2 separate regions of the Homo sapiens genome follow, and region 2 is linked to region 1. The links come from fine-mapping of genetic effects on gene expression. A gene starts in region 1. The other region holds a variant in brackets. All regions are shown on one strand. Distances are from middle to middle.

Evidence for each region. PIP is the estimated chance that this variant, and not a neighbour inherited with it, causes the effect. A credible set is the group of variants that fine-mapping cannot tell apart.
Region 2: its variant is the best candidate, but not a certain one, in a credible set for the expression of NDRG3 in whole blood (TOPMed, PIP 0.67).

The regions. Positions count from the first base shown.
Region 1 is chr20:36,744,342-36,747,247 of GRCh38, forward strand. NDRG3 (NDRG family member 3) reads right to left here and starts at 1,749. Exons shown (of 16, transcript NM_032013.4): 1 at 1,704-1,749. RefSeq lists enhancers at 1,212-2,178, 1,903-2,002 and silencers at 1,373-1,562, 1,593-1,792.
Region 2 is chr20:36,648,893-36,651,798 of GRCh38, forward strand. It overlaps NDRG3 (NDRG family member 3), which reads right to left. Exons shown (of 16, transcript NM_032013.4): 16 at 2,879-2,906. Among named protein-coding and RNA genes, the nearest start is that of SLA2, 4.2 kb to the left of the region's middle. The variant G/A (reference allele first, on the strand shown) is at 1,132.

The sequences.
Region 1 (2,906 bases):
AAGGAGGAACAGAAGGGCACCAGAAGAACACCACGCTTTGAGTAATGAAAAGGGGGGGTGGAAATTAACTGAGTCCTTACCAAGGATCTACTGTGAGCCAGGCATCTGGAGCTGCAAAGATGGACCATGCCCTCAAGGGGCTAGAAGTCCGCAGGGTAAGACTGAGGCTAAGACCCTGTTTTGTGAACGTGTAATTCTAATTGGGAAAATCAAGCAGGGAAGGCTTCACAGAGAAGGTGGTGATTTAGTGGAGCCTTTGAAATGTGGAGGAGGATTTGCTAAGGGAGAAAAACGACAGTTTGAGCTAGTTATTTTGGGGGAGAAACATTCACATATTTTTATAGCTGTTCATTTGGAACTTTAAATCATGGGAGGCTTCTTAAATTCAGCACCACTCTATCAATGTTCTCTTTCTCTTCTTGCTTTATCTTAAATACTGAAATGTTCAAGCCCAACCTTGGGGCAAAGGCAGAAAGCCTCGGACAGAAAGCCCCGGAATGAGGTGAGTGCTAGCCAAATCTGCTCTGTCACCTCCAAGTCCAGCCCGCCCAGCTAGCCCAGTCAGCCCAGTCCTGCTCTCTTGGCAGGAAAGGAAGGCTAATAATATCCCCTGAGGGCCAGGGTAAGGGGGGGGGGGGGCGCGGCGGGGGTGATCTGGATGCCAGCAGGCAAGGATCACTCTTGTTCTGTCAGTAAGCCACCAAAGGAAAGCTTCCCTGCTTCCTAATCCACGGGGCTCCTAGTCTACCTGTGATAGGGAGGCCAGCTCTGCAGGAAGAAAAAAAGGGCTTCATGACAAGGAAGGGGGAAGCATTTGGATTGGGAAGTGCAGAGGTGGTTATGCGAGGTTATCTTAATAAAATGCTTAGCAAGATCCCTGGCACACAGCGAGCGGTGGAAGAACGTTAGCTCTTATATTAATAACACTATTATTATTACAGTAACACCTCAATTGTACTCCGACAACAAGAAAATCTTTTTTGTGCAGCCTACTTTTACGACGTTCGAGAGCAACTTCAGAGATGACAAGTGATTTCAAAATTTTTTCAAAGGTACGAGATCAAATTCCAACCGCACTGGCCTGAGAGCCCGAGACCCTGAGTTGAGAGCTGACCCTGCCACTTGTCAGCTGCGTGACCTTGGGCATGGCACTTCACCTTTCCGTGCCTCAGTTTCCTCGGCTGTTAAGTGGGGCTAAGAAGCCTCTCCCCGGTAGGGTAGTCGTAGGGTCCCGTTAGAGGATGCCCTCTGCTGCTCTGGGGCCGGACGGGTGCAAGGGCTGCTCACGGCCCCTCTTCCAAGCATCTGGGCTCTTGGAGCGGGCGAGGTAGATGGATGAGCAACCCCAAGGCCCACCAAGCTCTGCCGCCTGCAGAGCCAGAGCGAGAGAAGGGTTCGCGCCTGCGGGGGGCGTCCCTGTGACCCAGGGTGTTGAGCCCGGAGGGAGGCTCTCTTGCTACCCACACGCTGTCGCCGGCGGGCTGGGCGCGGGGAGCGGCCGAGGAAAGCCGGGCTGACCTGGGTCCGGCGGGCGGGCGGGGCGGGGCAGAGGGCCCCGGGGGCACGGGGGAGGCAAGCAGCACGGGCCACCAGGGCCTCGCCGTGCCGCGGAGATGATGCGGGGAAGGAGCAGGGCAAAGGAGCGACGCCCCCGAATGCGGCGCCGCGCGCCCCCCGCGGGCCGGGCGGAGGCGCTCACTCACCTGAGGCGCGGGCACCCGCCGTCAGTGCAGCAGCAGCGGCGGCGGCGGCGGCGGCGGCGGCGGCGGCGGCGGCGGCGAGAGGGGCGGGGGAGGTGCTGCGGTCCGCGCAGGCGCGCCGAGGACGCCAGGGCGGCGCATGAGTGCTGTGCCCGTCCACCTCGGGAACTACCGAGAAGATGGTGGCTGAGCCAGGAGAGGCCGGCGGCGCCATCTTTGATGTAGTTTTTCTTGCTGCGGAGTTTCCTCAGAGAAGAATCTCAGATTTTGGAGGCGCTGGGCGGCAGGGCCATTGAGCTCTGCGTCTGGAGCGCTTCCCTCAGTTCCCTGAGTCGCATCCTTATGAAGCCCCTAAGAGCTCTTGCAGGGTATGGCATCCTCCTTTTAAGGTGACCTAGAGCCATACCCAAGGTCACAGGGCGCCTAGCACAGTGCTCGGCACGTGGAAAGAGCTTAGTAAATTTTTGGTGAATGAACATAGTAATTTAAGAACTAGAGTCCAAGACTCAGGGCTCCGAATTACCAGTCCTCCATTGTATCACCCCTATTACAACCGTCAGCCAAATCATCTACTTTCTTGAATGCAACATTAGAGATGGAATTTTTTTTCCCAGAATGATTGCAGATATTAAACTTAATGACCCAACAATTTAACACCAAAATGTACAGGACACACTCTTCCTCTATTTATTATCTATTATTTCTTTACCATTAAGTACCACTGACTAAAAGTTTTTTTGTTTTGTTTTGTTTTGTTTTTTGAGACGGAGTCTCACTCTGTCGCCAGGCTGGAGTGCACTAGCGCGATCTCGGCTCACTGCAACCTCTGCCTCCTGGGTTCAAGCGATTCTCCTGCCTCAGCCTCCCGAGTAGCTGGCACTGTAGGCGTGTGCCACCGGGCCTGGCTAATTTTTCTATTATTAGTAGAGACGGGTTTTCACCGTGTTGGCCAGGATGGTCTCGATCTCTTGACCTCGTCATCTGCCCGCCTCGGCCTCCCAAAGTGCTGGGATTACAGGTGTGTGAGCCACCACGCCCTTTTAACCCGAGCCAGTGTCGCCATCTCGGCTCAGGTTCCCAAGTCCCTCAGCCTCCCAAGTAGCTGGGACTAGAGGCGGGCGCCACCATGCCTGGGTAATTTTTGTATTTTTTTTTTTTTAGTAGAGATGGGGTTTCACCATGTTGGCCAAGCTGGTCTCAAACTCC
Region 2 (2,906 bases), 95 kb before region 1:
GGTCTCACTATATTGCCCAGGCTGGTCTTGAACTCCTGGGCTCAAGCAGTCCTCCTGCCTCCCAAACTGCTGGGATTACAGGTGTGAGCCACTGCACCCAGCCTCATATCCTTTTGAATAATAAACCGGTAAATTCAGTGTTTCCCTGAGTTCCGTGAGCCATCTTAGCGAACTATCAAACCTGAGGGAGGGGGTCTAGTTTGTAGCCAGGTTGGACAGAAGTATGAATAACCTGGGGATCCACTGCTTGCACCTGGCATCTAAAGCAGGGGGCGGTCTTGTGGGCCTGAACCCTTAACCTGTAGGGTCTGTACTAACTCCAGGAAGCTGGTGTGGTAATTTAGGACACCTACTCAGTGTCTGGGGTGTTGGAGAACTGGTTGGTATATGGGAAAAAAGCTCACACATTTGGTCACAGCAGTGTTGGAAGTGTTGAGTGTAGTGGAGGAAACTGTTTCCCATATAGCCACTTACTAGTTTTGTGACCATTTACAAGCTAGTTATCTCTGGACCTGTTTCTGCATCTATAAAATGGGAATAGCATGTATCTCACTGGATCAATAGAAGGAAATTTATAGGAAGGCATTAAGGGCCTGGCCTATATATAGATGCTCAATAAAGGGCTGATTCCCACACCTGTAACCCTAGCATTTTGGGAGGCTGAGGCAAGATCACTTGAGGTCAGGAGTTCAAGTCTAGCCTAGGCAACAACGTGATATGCTGTCTCTACAAAAAATAAAAAATTAGCCAGGCATGGTGGTGCATGCCTGTAGTCCCTGCTCCTCAAGAGGCTGAAGTGGGAGGATGGCTTGAGCCCAGAAGTTTGAGGCTGCAGTGAGCTATGATTACACCACTGCCATCCAGCTTGGGTGACAAAGTGAGACACTGTTTCAAAAAAAAAAAAAAAAAAAAAAAAAAAAAGGGCCCAGCGCAGGGGCTCATGCCTGTAATTCCAGCACTTTGGGAGGCTGAGGCGGGCAGATCACTTGAAGTCAGGAGTTCCAGACCAGCCTGGTCAACATGGCGAAACCCCATCTCTACTAAAAATTAGCTGGGCGTGGTGGCACATGCTTGTAGTCCCAGCTACTCAGAAGGCTGAGACAGGAGAATTGCTTGAACCTAGGAGGAGGA[G/A]GTTGCAGTGAGTGGATATCATGCCACTGCACTCCAGCCTGGGCGACAGAGCGAGACTCCATCTCAGAACAAAACATAACCAAACAAAAAACAAAAAAAAAGGCAACTGAGGCCATCAGATCAGTTCCTTCCCATGTCAGCATTCTGTGGAGCATTGGCCTGCATTGTAAGGCTTCAGCCTGGTAATCTTTATCTGTTCATATGCATTTGTTTCAACTCCTCTGCCAGAATGGGCATGTCTTTTTTTTTTTTTTTTTTGAGACAAGAGTCTTTCTCTGTCGCACAGGCTGGAGTGCAGTAGCGCTATCTCCGCTCTCTGCTAGCTCCGCCTCCCGGGTTCACGCCATTCTCCTGCCTCAGCCTCCTGAGTAGCTAGGACTACAGGTGCCCACCACCACGCCCGACGAATTTTTTGTATTTTTAGTAGAGATGGGGTTTCACTGTGTTAGCCAGGATGGTCTCGATCTCCCGACCTCGTGATCTGCCCACCTCAGCCTCCCAAAGTGCTGGGATTACTGGCGTGAGCCACCGCGCCCGGTGGTTCATGTCATTTTTTACGAGTGCCTGTCACAGATGTAGCAATCCACATGCACTTTTGCTGGCACTTGCCCCGGGTTACTGAAAACTCATCTGAGATGGTGGTCTTCTGAAATTATTCTTTTTTTTTTTTTTTTTTTTTTTTTCTGGAGACGGAGTTTTACTCTTGTTACCCAGGCTGGAATGCAATGGTGCAATCTTGGCTCACTGCAATCTCCACCTCCTGGGTTCAAGCGATTCTCCTGTCTCAGCCTCCCGAGTAGCGGGATTACAGGTGCATGCCACCACGCTCGACTAATTTTTTTTTTTTTTTTTGTATTTTTAGTAGAGACAGGGTTTTATCACATTGGTCAGGCTGGTCTCGAACTCCTGACCTCCAGTGATCCGCCCGCCTTGGCCTCCCAAAGTGCTGGGATTACAGGCGTGAGCCACCATGCCTGGCTTTTTTTTTTTTTTTTTTTTTTGAGACAGTCTCGCTCTGTAGCCCAGGCTAGAGTGCAGTGGTGTGATCTTGGCTCACTGCAAACTCCACCTCCCGGGTTCAAGTGATTCTCCTGCCTCAGCCTTCCAAGTAGCTGGGATTACAGGCACATACCACCATGCCTGGCTAATTTTTGTATTTTTAGTAGAAACAGGGTTTCACCATGTTGGCCAGGCTGGTCTTTAACTCCTGACCTCAGGTGATCCGCCCACCTTGGCCTCCCAGAGTGTTGGGATTACAGGCGTGAGCCACTGCACTCGGTCTGAAATTATTCTTGATGGGTACAAATATAGCCATTTCTGGAGAAACACAAGCTGGTCTCTTAGAAGACAAGTGGTTGCAGATTATTAAAATGAGAGGTGGAACCCAGCAATCCCACACAGGTGGTGGAGCTGTGACGTGGACCACCTTCTCAAGACCTCAGCTTCTCCTCCTCCATCACAAACAACACTGTCAGGCTTCTCACGATTTTTGGCTTGAGGGAAATACAGACACATCAGATAGAATTCTGCATAATTCCCTGGGATTTGATCCTGGCTGGACTTATTGGCTGCATGACCTTGGGCAAATGATTTATCATCAGTCTTCATTTCCTCCTATAAATGGACAGTGTCGCTTGGTGGATAAGCAATCACATGTGAAAATGGCAACACAGAACCAGCATACAGCAACTCGGTCCTGCCCTGAACCCCAGTGAATGGCTTGAAAGAAATAACACCAGCAATCAGGTAACAATGAGACATATGCAGCTTTATTT